Regions from separate parts of the Homo sapiens genome. Here region 1 is linked to region 2. Evidence: fine-mapped expression QTL. A gene starts in region 2. The other region holds a variant in brackets. All regions are shown on one strand. Distances are from middle to middle. Region 1 has its middle 8.1 kb from the start of VTCN1. Region 2 holds the start of TRIM45 (tripartite motif containing 45).

Region 1 (8,156 bases), 98 kb before region 2:
CTCCAGCACCTGTTGTTTCCTGACTTTTTAATGATTGCCATTCTAACTGGTGTGAGATGGTATCTCATTGTGGTTTTGATTTGCATTTCTCTGATGGCCAGTGATGATGAGCATTTTTTCATGTGTCTTTTGGCTGCATAAATGTCTTCTTTTGAGAAGTGTCTGTTCATATCCTTCACCCACTTTTTGATGGGGTTGTTTGTTTTTTTCTTGTAAATTTGTTTGAGTTCATTGTAGATTCTGGATATTAGCCCTTTGTCAGACAAGTAGATTGCAAAAATTTTCTCCCATTCTGTAGGTTGCCTGTTCACTCTGATGGTAGTTTCTTTTGCTATGCAGAAGCTCTTTAGTTTAATGAGATCCCATTTGTAAATTTTGGCTTTTGTTGCCATTGCTTTTGGTGTTTTAGACATGAAGCCCTTGCCCATGCCTATGTCCTGAATGGTATTGCCTAGGTTTTCTTCTAGGGTTTTTATGGTTTTAGGTCTAACATTTAAGTCTTTAATCCATCTTGAATTAATTTTTGTATAAGGTGTAAGGAAGGGATCCAGTTTCAGCTTTCTACATATGGCTAGCCAGTTTTCCCAGCACCATTTATTAAACAGGGAATCCTTTCCCCATTTCTTGTTTTTGTCAGGTTTGTCAAAGATCAGATGGTTGTAGATATGCAGCATTATTTCTGAGGGCTCTGTTCTTTTCCATTGGTCTATATCTCTGTTTTGGTACCAGTACCATGCTGTTTCGGTTACTGTAGCATTGTAGTATAGTTTGAAGTCAGGTAGCGTGATGCCTCCAGCTTTGTTCTTTTGGCTTAGGATTCACTTGGCAATGCGGGCTCTTTTTTGGTTCCATATGAACTTTAAAGTAGTTTTTTCCAATTCTGTGAAGAAAGTCCCTGGTAGCTTGATGGGGATGGCATTGAATCTATAAATTACCTTGGGCAGTATGGCCATTTTCACAATATTGATTCTTCCTACCCATGAGCATGGAATGTTCTTCCATTTGTTTGTATCCTCTTTTATTTCATTGAGCAGTGGTTTGTAGTTCTCCTTGAAGAGGTCCTTCACATCCCTTGTAAGTTGGATTCCTAGGTATTTTATTCTCTTTGAAGTAATTGTGAATGGGAGTTCACTCATGATTTGGCTCTCTGTTTGTCTGTTATTGATGTATAAGAATGCTTGTGATTTTTGCACATTGATTTTGTATCCTGAGACTTTGCTGAAGTTGCCTATCAGTTTTAGGAGATTTTGGGCTGAGATGATGGGGTTTTCTAGATATACAATCAGGTCATCTGCAAACAGGGACAATTTGACTTCCTCTTTTCCTAATTGAATACCCTTTATTTCCTTCTCCTGCCTGATTGCCCTGGCCAGAACTTCCAACACTATGTTGAATAGGAGTGGTGAGAGAGGGCACCCCTGTCTTGTGCCAGTTTTCAAAGGGAATGCTTCCAGTTTTTGCCAATTCAGTATGATATTGGCTGTGGGTTTGTCATAAATAGCTCTTATTATTTTGAGACACATCCCATCAATACCTAATTTATTGAGAGTTTTTAGCATGAAGCATTGTTGAATTTTGTCAAAGGCCTTTTCTGCATCTACTGAGATAATCATGTGGTTTTTGTCTTCGGTTCTGTTTATATGCTGGATTATGTTTATTGATTGCATATGTTGAACCAGCCTTGCATTCCAGGGATGAAGCCCATTTGATCATGGTGGGTAAGCTTTTTGATGTGCTGCTGGATTTGGTTTGCCAGTATTTTATTGAGGATTTTGCATCGATGTTCATCAGGGATATTGGTCTAAAATTCTCTTTTTTTGTTGTGTCTCTGCCAGGCTTTGGTATCAGAATGATACTGGCCTCATAAAATGATTTAGGGAGGATTCCCTCTTTTTCTATTGATTGGAGTAGTTTCAGAAGGAATGGTACCAGCTCCTCCTTGTACCTCTGGTAGAATTTGGCTGTGAATCCATCTGGTCCTGGACTTTTTTTGTTGGTAAGCTATTAATTATTGCCTCAATTTCAGAGCCTGTTATTGGTCTATTCAGAGATTCAACTTCTTCCTGGTTTAGTCTTGGGAGGGTATATGTGTCCAGGAATTTATCCATTTCTTCTAGATTTTCTAGTTTATTTGCATTAGAGGTGTTTATAGAAGTCTCTGATGGTAGTTTGTATTTCTGTGCGATCGGTGGTGATATCCCCTTTATCATTTTTTATTGTGTCTATTTGATTCTTCTGTCTTTTCTTCTTTATTAGTCTTGCTAGCGGTCTATCAATTTTGTTGATCTTTTCAAAAAACCAGCTCCTGGATTCATTGATTTTTTGAAGGGTTTTTTGTGTCTCTATTTCCTTCAGTTCTGCTCTGATCTTAGTTATTTCTTGCCTTCTGCTAGCTTTTGAATGTGTTTGCTCTTGCTTCTCTAGTACTTTTAATTGTGATGTTAGGGTGTCAATTTTAGATATTTCCTGCTTTCTCTTGTGGGCATTTAGTGCTATAAATTTCCCTCTACACACTGCTTTGAATGTGTCCCAGAGATTCTGGTATGTTGTGTCTTTGTTCTCGTTGGTTTCAAAGAACATATTTACTTCTGCCTTCTTTTCGTTATGTATCCAGTAGTCATTCAGGAGCAGGTTGTTCAGTTTCCATGTAGTTGAGTGGTTTTGAGTGAGTTTCTTAATGCTGAGTTCTAGTTTGATTGCACTGTAGTCTGAGAGACAGTTTGTTATAATTTCTGTTCTTTTACTTTTGCTGAGGAGTGCTTTACTTCCAACTATGTGGTCAATTTTGGAATAGGTGTGGTGTGGTGCTGAAAAGAATGTATATTCTGTTGATTTGGGGTGGAGAGTTCTGTAGATGTCTATTAGGTTGCTTTGGTGCAGAGCTGAGTTCAATTCCTGAATATCCTTGTTAACTTTCTGTCTCATTGATCTGTCTAAGGTTAACAGTGGGATGTTAAAGTCTCCCATTATTATTGTGTGGGAGACTAAGTCTCTTTGTAGGTCTCTAAGGACTTGCTTTATGAATCTGGGTGCTCCTGTATTGGGTGCATTTATATTTAGGATAGTTAGCTCTTCTTGTTGAATTTATCTCTTTACCATTATGTAATGGCCTTCTTTGTCTCTTTTGATCTTTGTTGGTTTAAAGTCTGTTTTATCAGAGACTAGGATTGCAACCTCTGCCTTTTTTTGTTTTCCATTTGCTTGGTAGATCTTCCTCCATCCCTTTATTTTGAGCCTATGTGTGTCTCTGCATGTGAGA[C/T]GGGTTTCCTGAATACAGCACACTGATGGGTCTTGACTCTTTATCCAATTTGCCAATCTCTATCTTTTAATTGGAGCATTTAGCCCATTTACATTTAAGGTTAATATTGTTATGTGTGAATTTGATCCTGTCATTATGATGTTAGCTGGTTATTTTGCTCATTAGTTGATGCAGTTTCTTCCTAGCCTCGATGGTCTTTACAATTTGGCATGTTTTTGCAGTGGCTGGTACCAGTTGTTCCTTTCCATGTTTAGTGCTTCCTTCAGGAGCTCTTGTAGGGCAGGCCTGATGGTGACAAAATCTCTCAGCATTTACTTGTCTGTAAAGTATTTTATTTCTCCTTCACTTATGAAGCTTAGTTTGGCTGGATATGCAATTCTGGGCTGAAAATTCTTTTCTTTAAGAATGTTGAATATTGGCCCCCACTCTCTTCTGGCTTGTAGAGTTTCTGCTGAGAGATCAGCTGTTAGTCTGATGGGCTTCCCTTTGTGGGTAACCCGACCTTTCTCTCTGGCTGCCCTTAACATTTTGTCCTTCATTTCAACTTTGGTGAATCTGACAATTATGTGTCTTGGAGTTTCTCTTCTCGAGGAGTATCTTTGTGGCGTTCTCTGTATTTCCTGGATTTGAATGTTGGCCTGCCTTGCTAGATTGGAGAAGTTCTCCTGGATAATATCCTGCAGAGTGTTTTCCAACTTGGTTCCATTCTCCCCGTCAGTTTTAGGTACACCAATCAGATATAGATTTGGTCTTTTCACATAGTCCCATACTTCTTGGAGGCTTTGTTTGTTTCTTTTTATTCTTTTTTCTCTAAACTTCTCTTTTCATTTCATTTCATTCATTTGATCTTCCATCACTGATACCCTTTCTTCCAGTTGATTGAATCTGCTCCTGAGGCTTGTGCATTCATCATGTAATTCTCATGCCGTGGTTTTCAGCTCCTTCAGGTCCTTTAAGGACTTCTCTGCATTGGTTATTTTAGTTAGCTATTCATCTAATCTTTTTTCAAGGTTTTTAACTTCTTTGCCATGGGTTCGAACTTCCTCCTTTAGCTCGGAGTAGTTCGATCGTCTGAAGCCTTCTTCCCTCAACTCAACTCAAAGTCAACTCTCAACTCAAAGTCATTCTCCATCCAGCTTTGTTCTGTTGCTGGTGAGGAGCTGCATTCCTTTGGAGGAGGAGAGGTGCTCTGATTTTTAGAGTTTCCAGTTTTTCTGCTGTGATTTTCCCCATCTTTGTGGTTTTATCTACCTTTGGTCTTTGATGATGGTGACATACAGATGGGGTTTTGGTGTGGATGTCCTTTCTGTTTGTTAGTTTTCCTTCTAACAGTCAGGACCCTCAGCTGCAGGTCTGTTGGAGTTTTCTGAAGGTCTACTCCAGAACCCGTTTGCCTGGGTATCAGCAGCGGAGGCTGCAGAACAGCAGATATTGGTGAACAGCAAATGTTGCTGCCTGATCGTTCCTCTGGAAGTTTTGTTCCATAGGAGTACCCAGCCGTGTGAGGTGTCAGTCTGCCCCTACTGGGGCGTGCCTCCCAGTTAGGCTACTCAGGGGTCTGGGACCCACTTGAGGAGACAGTCTGTCCGTTCTCAGATCTCAAGCTGCGTGCTGGGAGAACCACTACTCTCTTCAAAGCTGTCAGACAGGGACATTTAAGTCTGCAGAGGTTTCTGCTGCCTTTTGTTTGGCTGTGCCCTGCCCCCAGAGGTGGAGTCTACAGAGGCAGGCAGGCCTCCTTGAGCTGCGGTGGGCTCCACCCAGTTCGAGCTTCCCAGCTGCTTTGTTTACCTACTTAAGCCTTGGCAATGGAGGGTGCCCCTCCCCCAGCCTTGCTGCTTCCTTGCAGTTTGATCTCAGACTGCTGTGCTAGCAATGAGCGAGGCTCCGTGGGCATAGGACCCTCCGAGCCAGGCACAGGATATAATCTCCTGGTGTGCCGTTTGCTAAGACCATTGGAAAAGCACAGTATTAGGATGGGAGTGACCCGATTTTCCAGGTGCCATCTGTCACCTCTTTCCTTGGCTAGGAAAGGGAATTCCCTGACCCCTTGTGCTTCCCGGGTGAGGAGATGCCTCGCCCTGCTTTGGCTCATGCTCAGTGCACTGCACCCACTGTCCTGCACCCACTGTCCAACAATCCCCAGTGCGATGAACCCGGTACCTCAGTTGGAAATGCAGAAATCACCCGTGTTCTGCGTCGCTCACACTGGCAGCTGTAGACTGGAGCTGTTCCTATTTGGCCATCTTGGCTCCACCCCAAATGGTGTCCTTATAAAAAGAAAAAGTTCGGACACAGAGGCAGATGCATAGAGGAAAGATGATATGAAGAGATATAAAGAGAAGATGGCCATCTACAAGCCAAAGAGAGAGGTGTGGAACAGATCCTTTCTCGCAGGCTCATGCCTGTAATCCAAGCACTTTGGGAGGCTGAGGCGGGCAGATCACTTGAGGCCAGGAGTTCAAGACAACCTGACCAAAACCTGTGAAATGTGGTGAAAACCAGTCTCTACTAAAAATATAAAAATTAGCTGGGCGTGGTCATGCACACCTGTAGTGCCAGCTACTCAGGAGACTGAGATGAGAGGATCACCTGATCCCAGAAGGTGGAGGTTGCAGTGAGCTGAGATCATGCCACTGCACTGCAGCCTGGGCAACAGAGTGAGACCCTGTCTCAAATAAATAAATCAGTGTGGGTTCTGCTGACCAGGGATTCCACTCAGGCCCCAGGACATTCTGACTTAGTGATAACAGTAGGGGTCACACAAATTTGTGAACTGGTAAATCAATAGGCAGGGCTGCTAGGAATCGATGCCTGAGGGCTTCTGGCTGAAGGATGAGGAAGGAGGAATGGAGAGGAAGCATAGCATCTGCCTTAGATACTGGTCCTCTGCCTGGCCAGTGACGAAGCAATCAGCCCTTCCCTTATATGGAGGCCCTAGTAACTAGTGGAAGAAAGTCAAGGTCTCAGACAAAGTGATAGCTCGTTAATATTTCACCAGATGTCAGCATCCCTTTCAATTAGCCGTTTGAAGTTTGCTATATTAAGACTACAAGGTCTGCTCTTCCCAGCTCTGCAAAATATTATAAGATCTCTTCTCCTTTAGCAGGATTCCAAATTCCTGCTAATGACAAGGTGTTTATCAGAATTGAGACTACCTTTGCAGAAATTATAACAGTGAGAAAATTATGGCAGTTGGGGAGATCTGATCTAGCCAACTCATTTCTGGCCTTTAGCCTTCAAGCTATACTTAATTATTACTGGGCTTGGGCCAAGCTAATTTTGGGAGACATTTAGTTTATAGTTTAAGTGAGAATAGCCCTTCCGCCAAACTTAACTGCCTTTGTAAAGCTAATGAGAGACCACCAGGCTAGGAGGATAGGGGAGCCTGAATTCTGCTAAGGTGTAGACATAAACAATTGCCAGCCATTACTCCAGAAGTCACAATGACACAGGATTTTTCTTGATCACTCTGCCAGTTGGAGAGCTCCTGCCAGCAATGCCCCTGCCCAGGCCTTGTTCAGGCCCAACCCTTTGATTGTCAGCATGACCTCATTTTTTTTGGACATGGGACTGGTGAAGGGCAGCTGCCCCATGCAACGGAAAGCAGTGGTGGTGCCAAGTTTGCCCCAGAGCTGCTGGCGAGAGTGGGGCAAGGAAATGACAGAGCTGTTAACATGCCACTGTCCACTAGGCAGCAGAAGCCGGGACTATAAGAGCTAATTAGCATGCTGTAACACCCCCTCTGGGGCTTTGGGGTCATGGACACCCCTGCCTAGGTGCCACTGCATTCCCCTTGTCTGGATGCCAGAGACCACCAGGGGAGTGGCTTGCAACATGCCTGGTCCAGTCGCAAGCACAGCACAGAGCCTGCTTCTGTGCCAGCACTTGGAACAACCGGCTAGGTCCACATTCACTCATGGGCGGGTGCTCTTCCTATCAGAGCCAGAATGTGCTGTGATTCCAAGGAAATGTAAGCCTTATACGCAGGAAAATATGCAGCTACACAATGAGAAAACAGAGCTCCAGGTGACTGGGCTATTTAAATAATTTTTTAAAAAAATTCATAGGCCGGGCGTGGTGGCTCACGCCTGTAATCCCAGCAGTTTGGGAGGCCGAGGCGGGCGGATCACGAGGTCAGGAGATCGAGACCATCCCGGCTAAAACGGTGAAACCCCGTCTCTACTAAAAATACAAAAAAATTAGCCGGGCGTAGTGGCGGGCGCCTGTAGTCCCAGCTACTTGGGAGGCTGAGGCAGGAGAATGGCGTGAACCCGGGAGGCGGAGCTTGCAGTGAGCCGAGATCCCGCCACTGCACTCCAGCCTGGGCGACAGAGTGAGACTCCGTCTCAAAAAAAAAAAAAAAAAAAAAAAAATTCATAAGACATTTTGGTTCCAGATACATTAAGTAATCTCTGTCTCTCTCTTTCCCCAAGATCAACAAGGAGAGAATAGATTTTGTGCTTATCTCCTACGTCTGCTTTACCTTTGTCCTAATCATAAATTGTTCCTCTATCTCAAATGCAACTTGTTCTCTGCTGCCTCTAATAGTGTCAATCCAGCTCAGAAGACATCTCCTCTGGAAAATGACTGATCACACCCCAAGTTGATCCCTGCTTACTCATCCATCAAATGTTACTGAGTGCTTTTTATGCCTGGCACGGTGCTAGGACCTGATAACAAAAAAAGATGAACGAGGCCTAGTTTTTACCCTCCAAGAGCTCACAGACTAGCAATGAGATAGATGCATAAATGGAAAATAGTACCATTACTGTGTGCTGTGAAAGAAAAATGTACATTTATCCAACAAACATCTAATGATTGCTTACTCTGTGCATGCCTTATGCTGGTGTGAAATACAAAAATGAATAAGACACCTTTCTATTTCTAAGGTGTG
Region 2 (8,156 bases):
GGAGCCCTGAAATAAGAGAAAGCTTCAAGGGGGTAGTGTGAAGTAGGGCTTTCATAGAAGGAAGGGTAGGTTTAAATAATAAAGGAAGGAGAATGTTGCCGACAACTTGGCAAACACCAAGAAACGTGCTTGGCAATGTTTAGGGAATAACTAAACAAGCAGTTTTATGAATCTATTGAAGAATGCAGATATTATCCTACAAAAATGGGGAGCTACTGAAAGTTTTAGAATGAAGACTGACTTGTATCATGTTTTTATATGTTTTTACAATTAATTTGGAAGAACTGTGTAGATCAAAAAAAATAAAGGGCAGGGATAATTCAGACACTATTGTAATACTTAAGGTGAGGGTGATAAAGAGCTATAGCATCTTAAAAAGTGTATGCAGTGAGGTGTTGGCAGTGGGGATGGAAAGAAATCGGTGTCTGCCTGGATATGGAACAAGAGAAAGGAGGCCAGCAGCACTATAAGGTTTCATGCAGGAGGGAAAGGAGAATGATGATACTCTGGAGAGAATCAAATAGGAAAATTCAGAGAGTGCAGTTCAGTGAGCAAAGAAGTTCAGTGAAGTTTAAGCTATGTGGGACTTGGTGATAGGAACATATTTGAGTGCAGATTTAGAAATCTATGTCAAAAGCTCAGGGGAGACATCAGTACTGGAAGCGTTGGTCTGGGAATCATCCACGTGAGGAAATGTAGACGCAAAGGTAGGAGATAAAGTGGAGGAAGGGGAACTAGTGAGGATGGAGGGTGTGAGAAGCAGCCCAAGAGACAGAAGGTTAGGAGAGTAGAGTATTTCAGAAGTCAAGGAGGAGGCAAGTTTTAAGGATGAGGAAGTACAAAAAATGGTAAATACTAAAGAGATTGCCTATTGAGAAAAGGCCAGCAATATGGTCACTCATGATCTACAAGAAAGTCTCAATAGGAAAGAGGGGAGGAATAAATCGGTGGTGATGGTTATAAAAAGATGATGAAAGCAGACAGTGAGACCACCCTTTTGAGAAATATAGGGGCGAGAACCACCACTATTAATACGTTGAAGGGGAGCTAGATCAAAAGACGATTTGCTTCCCCTTTCAGGACTTCATCAGAACTCTTGGCAGAAAAACTGACTGAAACATAGGAATAAGGTTTTGAGGAAGCAGGAGAGGTTGGGATAAAAAACAAAAATCTTGAGGAACTAATCTTGGCACTAAAGAATGGCAGTCAGGAGAGGTAAGAGAGGAGGTGTGAGGAATCATGGATTTTTTAAGTAGAAAGGCGAGGCAGTTCTTCAGACAACCTTGTTTTTCTCATCAATGGAAGGGAATTAGCTGCAGCATGTGTGAGGGATTTGATGCTTAATAAACTGAGAAAGGAAAGGTAGAGGTGGCCAGGCGCGGTGGCTCACGCCTGTAATCCCAGCGCTTTGGGAGGCCGAGGCGGGTGGATCACCTGAGGTCAGGAGTTCGAGAGGAGCCTGCCCAACATGGTGAAATCCAGTCTCTACTAAAAATACAAAAAATTAGCCAGGTGTGGTGGTGCATGCCTGTAATTCCAGCTACCTGGGAGGCTGAGGCAGGAGAATCGCTTGAACCCTGGAGGTGGAGGTTGCAGTGTGCCGAGATCCTGCCATTGCATTCCGGCCTAGGCAACAAGAGCAAAACTCAATCTCAAAAAAAGAAAAAAAAAAAAAGGGAAAGGTAGAGGTAGCCCGAATATAATCTTAGATATGGCATCATAAGGTTGTGTTCAAGTTCCAGATATGTTAACTTGGGCTGGCCATCCAAGACCTGGCAAGACCTCTTTGAGGCCATTTCCTTACAATATTGTTAAAGGTTAAATGAGATACTGCTAAATGAGATATTGCACGTGTAAATTATGAAGTACTTCTGAAACAAGAGAAGCTTGAAACTACTACCACAAGAAATGTGATACAGTATGAACAAGAGATGAAGTAAAGCACAGCCAAGCAGCAGGGAGGGTAAAGGTGAAGTTCAAAGCAAGAATATATAGCAAACCCAAGTCCACACAGTTTTTGTGACTTCCTCCAGCCTACTGGAGAGGCGAATGCCGATTTTGAGAGTAGATGCAAGAAGGACAAGAGGCTGAAAAAAATCTAGGTAAGGACTATTTAAAAATCTTTGGAGATATGCTTAACATTTGGAAATTACTTGCACATTTTATATAAAGGTGGCATTTGACTCATTGGCGTGTTATATTTTGGAAATGGCCAAACATTTCATTTTTATATTTTATAATGGTTTTTTTTTTTTTTTTCATATTTTGGGGTTAACTTTTTTTCAGATTCCATACTTTTAAAAGCTTAGGCTCCAGACACTATGCCTATAGCATGAAACAGATAATGAAGGAATCAAGTGAAACAGTCGCCCACTGGGTACAAATTAAGTAGGGAAGGTCATGAACAAAGAAAGCAGTGAGGGCCCAGTAGACAAGCTGACGCAACTGGAGATAACAACAGGTGGAGGGGAAAGGAGCAGCTGTTTCCATTTTTGGAATTTTGGAGAATCAGGAGACGCCTGGTAAGGCCAGAGAAGGTGGCCGTGTAATTATAAAGTTAAAGGGGTCGGACGTGTTCATCTTCCCAATTAGTTTTAAGCCCACAAAGGGCTTGTCCCTCATTGCCACCGTCCATTGTCTCACTGTGACCAGGCAGGAGCCCTCCGTGATTGACTGATAAAAACAGCGGGTCCAACTCGCTCAGCTCGTTTCTGTTACACAGGACTGTGGAATCCCGGGTGACATTCAACTCCTTAGGTCATCTGCACTCCCCCCGGACCGGAAAACAAAGCCTTCCCGAGCCCGACAAGGAGGGTGGCGCTCCCTGGCCCGGCCGAAGTAAGCCCTCCATTCGACACCTCGGCTCCACGGTCTCCCGAACCGGTCCCCGTAACGCGAGCCTGAGATGCCCTCACCCCCGAAAAATACCCAAAGTCGGGGAGCCGCGGGAGTGCTTGTACCCAGCACGCTAGGCCTGAGGGACCTGTGAGCTACAGTAAGCGCCTGAGGACAGAGGGGAGCCTCGCAGCCTCAAACCCGCGTGGAGGAGAAACGTCTGGCGCCCCCGAGCGGCCGAGACCTCGGGAGCCCGAAAAACGTCTCCCACTCCCAGCGCAGAGCCAACTGACAGTGCCATCCACCAATGGGAGAACCCAGTCTGCGTTCGTGGGACGAGTCCGAGGGCAGAAAGAAGGCCGTCCCGGCGCCAAATCAGCGTGGCTTTTTAAGAGGTCCTGAGGCCTCTCTGGTCACCACAGAGAGAGGGACAGTCCCTGTGAAACGGTGACGCTGACTACACTATGCCGCTCGCTCCGAGCCTTGGCCTTTTCCTCCCGCCGCACTCTAAGCCCTTCGGCCGCCCCGCCCACGGCCTTGTCAGGTCCCGCCCCCCGCGTGAGTGGACTGGCGAAGATGTGGAATTTCCAAAACTTATTGGATGCTTAGTGGCGTCACTCTGGAGGGCGGCGGGGCCCGGAGCGGCGAGGGCCGCCGCTCTCGGACGGTGATTGGACTCGCCGGAGTAGACCGGGCTGGGATTGGTGTGAGGAGGGGCCAGAGCCCGCGGGCGTCCCGGGCCGAGGCGCGGGAGAGGCGGTGGACACCGAGAAGCCCGCCGGCGGCTTGCAATTCCCTCACCCGGCGCGCGCCTTTCGCAGAGGGAAGGAGCAAGAGGGCCCCTACCTCATCGTGCGCGGGTGGGGTCGGCGCTTGTCGCGTGTGGCGCGCAGTGGGGCGGGCGGCGGGAGGGGGGTGGCAGTGGAGGGAGCGAGAGGTGCAGGGGTGACTTTGTTGGCAGCAGGACTAGCTGGAGAGCTAGACCTGGAAGCGCATCCGGGGAGGACTTGCGGGGCAGAGGAGGGCGTGGGCGTGTCTGGTGTGGGATGCAGTGGAAAGGAGGGGGCCCTCCTGAGTAGATCTGTGGGTGATTCCTTCGAGGACGCCTCGTCTTCCCGTCTGCCCTTTTATTTGTCAGCGAGGGAGTCCCCATGGTCTCTGTTCAAGTTCTGGAGACTTTCTCTTTGGGTGGGCTTAATCACCTGCTACTAAATCGTAGAACTGCCCAGGGCCCTTTCTAATATTGGTCACAAACGTGAGGAGTATGTCAGAAAACAGAAAACCGCTGCTGGGCTTTGTAAGCAAACTCACTAGTGGGACTGCACTTGGGAACTCAGGCAAGACTCACTGCCCCCTGTGCTTGGGGCTTTTCAAAGCCCCCAGGCTCTTGCCTTGTTTGCATACAGTTTGCACCACGTGTCTGGAGCAGCTGGAGCCCTTCTCAGTAGTGGACATCCGAGGGGGAGACTCTGACACAAGCTCTGAGGGGTCAATATTCCAGGAACTCAAGCCACGAAGTCTGCAGTCGCAGATCGGCATCCTTTGTCCTGTATGTGATGCTCAGGTGGACCTGCCCATGGGTGGAGTGAAGGCTTTAACCATAGACCACCTGGCCGTGAATGATGTGATGCTGGAGAGCCTACGTGGGGAAGGCCAGGGCCTGGTGTGTGACCTGTGCAACGACAGGGAAGTAGAGAAGAGGTGTCAGACCTGCAAAGCCAACCTCTGCCACTTCTGCTGCCAGGCTCATAGGTAAAGATGGGACACTCCATCAGGTGTAGCTTAAGAGCAGATTACAAAGAGGTGTCAAGACAAATCCCTCGGTGAGCAGATGAAAAGGAAAGCCTTCTCAAATACCGTGGAAGGTCAAAGAGCAATATAACAATGCAATAGCAAATACTCCAGTACAACAGTTAACCCGGTTAGCCTAATATAGTACCTAATATATAGCCTAATATAGCAATAGCAATAAACCCTTTCAATTTACAAAGTGCAGCTACAGTTTCCTTCAGTCATTCGTGTAGTGAATAATTGTACTGGGTGCTGGAGAAACAGGAGAATGAATATAACAGCATAGATCCTGTTCTTGATCTCCTTCGATCTTGCAACTCTTACAGAAAAGCAGGCCCTGTTTTCGCCCCCATTTATTAATTGGGGAAACAAGCTCAGCAATATTATGTGATTTGCCAAGGTCCTACAGTTGGTAAGTGTGTAACAGAACTGAGTATTAAATCCAGATCATTTTGACTACATTCCAGTAACCCATGCTGTGCTCCTAGAATAGGTGATGATGATTGGCCGGACCTCAGCTTTTGCTTTGTGTACCTTAGAGTTACTCTGGAGCTTGGTGAGGTGGGCTGGTAGGTGTTAATTGGGGTGCAGACTATGTGTTTTATGGCATTTGGTGAATAGTTTGTCAGATGGATCACTTTTGTCCCTTCGTACTCTTACCTTACCCCATCCTAGGACACCAGAATATAAAATGACCACAGTTTTAGGATTAGCCTAAAATAGGTTTCGGGTTCTACTTCCATTTGTTTTCTGGCTACACTAACAGAACAAGTTTGTAGACTTCACTCTATTTTTAACTTGTAATTATGTGATAGTCCCTGCGACTGTCTTGCTGCCAGCCAAACCAGCTAACCCTATTTTCTCTGCAGCCACTCTTCTGGTGCCAGAATAGGCATATAAGCTTCAAATTGATACAATGCTAATGGAGGAACTCTGAACAGTCACCATGTTTTCCTAAGGATTTCCCTACATCTCTAGAGGGCTACTATAGGAAAGGAATTAGAAAGAGAGCTTTGATTCTACTAACCATTGGTTTCACACTTTCTTTTCTCTTTTTTTTTTTTTCTGAGATGGAGTCTGGCTCTAGTCGCCCAGGCTGGAGTGCAATAACACAATCTCCACTCACTGCAACCTCCACCTCCTAGGTTCAAGCGATTCTCCTGCCTCAGCCTCCCCAGTAGCTGGGATTACAGGCACATGCCACCACGCCTGGCTAATTTTTTGTATTTTTAGTAGAGACAGGGTTTCACCATGTTGGCCAGGCTGGTCTCAAACTCCTGACCTCAGTTGATCCGCCCACCTCAGCCTCCCAAAATGCTGGGGTTACAGGCGTGAGCCACCGCGCCCGGCCGGTTTCACGCTTTCTAATGATGTTGACGATGTCTCTTGAAAAAAATTCTAGCCTGCTGATTTGGGTGATACAGGTCAACAGAAATGCTTCACCAAAATCTTAGATGCAAGCTAGATGAGACTTGGTGTCTGCTTTTTAATTGCTTGGACTTTATTGCTGTGTTATCTGGCATGGTTTCTGTTTCTTGATGCTGGTTTTCTGCCATGCCCTCACTGCTAGCTTACCTTAGGAAGCCGACTGTGACTCTTGTCTAAACTCTTTGGGAAAGTTCTAGCATGCAGTCATAGTCTTGCAACCTTCTGCATAGGCATGTAGCCAGCCAGAGCCCTAGTCTGTTCACACGTTATTCTATACAACAGCTCTTTCAGGTAGGTATTGTCCCCACTGTACAGATGAGAAACTGGAATCAGAGAGGTTCATGCAATTAGAGATTAGAGCAAGGAATTGAAATCAGGTTTGTTTAACTTCAGATCCTGTGCTCCTAAAATCTCTCTGCCCAACTATTCCCAACAGAATTATCCCCTTATTTCCTGTTACTGATTCTGTTTGCCCCTAGGCGGCAGAAGAAAACGACTTACCACACCATGGTGGACCTAAAAGACTTGAAAGGCTACAGCCGGATTGGGAAGCCCATCCTGTGTCCTGTTCACCCTGCAGAGGAACTGAGGCTGTTCTGTGAGTTCTGTGACCGGCCCGTGTGCCAGGATTGTGTGGTGGGGGAGCATCGGGAACACCCCTGTGACTTCACCAGCAATGTCATCCACAAGCATGGGGACTCTGTGTGGGAGCTCCTCAAAGGTACTCAGCCCCACGTGGAGGCCCTGGAGGAAGCCCTGGCTCAGATCCACATAATAAACAGTGCCCTCCAGAAGCGAGTGGAGGCAGTGGCAGCTGATGTCCGGACATTCTCGGAGGGCTACATTAAGGCCATTGAGGAGCATCGGGACAAGCTGCTGAAGCAGCTGGAAGACATACGGGCCCAGAAGGAAAATTCCCTGCAGCTGCAGAAGGCCCAGCTGGAACAGTTACTGGCAGACATGCGGACTGGAGTGGAGTTCACCGAGCACTTGCTGACCAGCGGCTCAGACTTGGAGATCCTCATCACCAAGAGGGTGGTGGTAGAACGGCTCAGGAAGCTGAACAAAGTTCAATATAGCACCCGTCCTGGAGTAAATGATAAGATACGCTTCTGTCCTCAGGAGAAAGCAGGCCAGTGCCGTGGCTATGAAATTTATGGTACGATTAATACCAAAGAGGTTGATCCAGCCAAATGTGTCCTACAAGGAGAAGGTAGGAAGGCATTTCCCATTGACATTGAGAGGGCAGTGGACAGGGAGGTGGTGTGTGAAGATTGGTGGCTTGTTCTGCTAGGAAGCATGCCCTACTGACCAGGTTACCAAAGGTGGGGAGATAAACTGATCTGAAAGACAGTGACCCCCACCTTTGCCCTTTCTGGTTTGTTCTGGCTAGGGTACAGTTAATACAGGAGTGAGGCTTGACCCTTTTCCAGTTCAGAGAAGTAATAATGGCTGAGAAACACACAGATCATGTTTTGTTTCTATCAGATGGCAGAACAGAGACAGTGCCCGTTGGAGGTAACAGCAGTGACTAGGGCCAGGTGAAATTCTGCCTGCTCAGAGAGGAGCATGGCAGGCCCTGGATTCCTAGATCAAGTTCTGAAGGGAGTTTCAGAGGAATGAGGAAGATGAGATTACGGTTTCCTTTCCTTTAGGCCCTTTTTGGTTCACATCAACTTTACTGGCATTTAAAAGGATATGGTAGGTGTTTCATTTAATTGGGGGAAAAAATGGTTTTTTTTAACGAGTGTTCCCTTTCTAATGGAAGCATATTATTAAAACATATGTTTCACAGGTCAGTAGGTCAGTCCTGATAGGAAGATTGCATCTTAATGACACAGGCATTCTTAACTGTTTGGAAGCCATAGATCTCTTTGAGAATGTTCTCTCCTACAGAAACACCCAGTAACTTGTGCATACAATTCCAGATTTTTAGACTCTTCATAAGCCTTTCCATAGACCTCATAGTAGTTCATGAACCTCAGGTTAAGAAACCCTGTTTCATCTGAATGCTGGAGTAGGGGCTGTAGCTACTGGATATCCCCCCAGTACCTTGGCATGAGCTACCAAGTTGCAGAGGATCTCAAAACATGGAGGGTCGT

The links.
Region 1: its variant is fine-mapped to the expression of TRIM45 in prefrontal cortex (GTEx, PIP 0.97).

The regions. Positions count from the first base shown.
Region 1 is chr1:117,214,959-117,223,114 of GRCh38, reverse strand. No RefSeq gene overlaps it. Among named protein-coding and RNA genes, the nearest start is that of VTCN1, 8.1 kb to the right of the region's middle. The variant C/T (reference allele first, on the strand shown) is at 3,260.
Region 2 is chr1:117,117,145-117,125,300 of GRCh38, reverse strand. TRIM45 (tripartite motif containing 45) reads left to right here and starts at 3,552. Exons shown (of 6, transcript NM_025188.4): 1 at 3,552-4,587; 2 at 6,534-7,267. The coding sequence starts at 4,100. RefSeq lists an enhancer at 3,118-3,287 and a silencer at 3,598-3,787.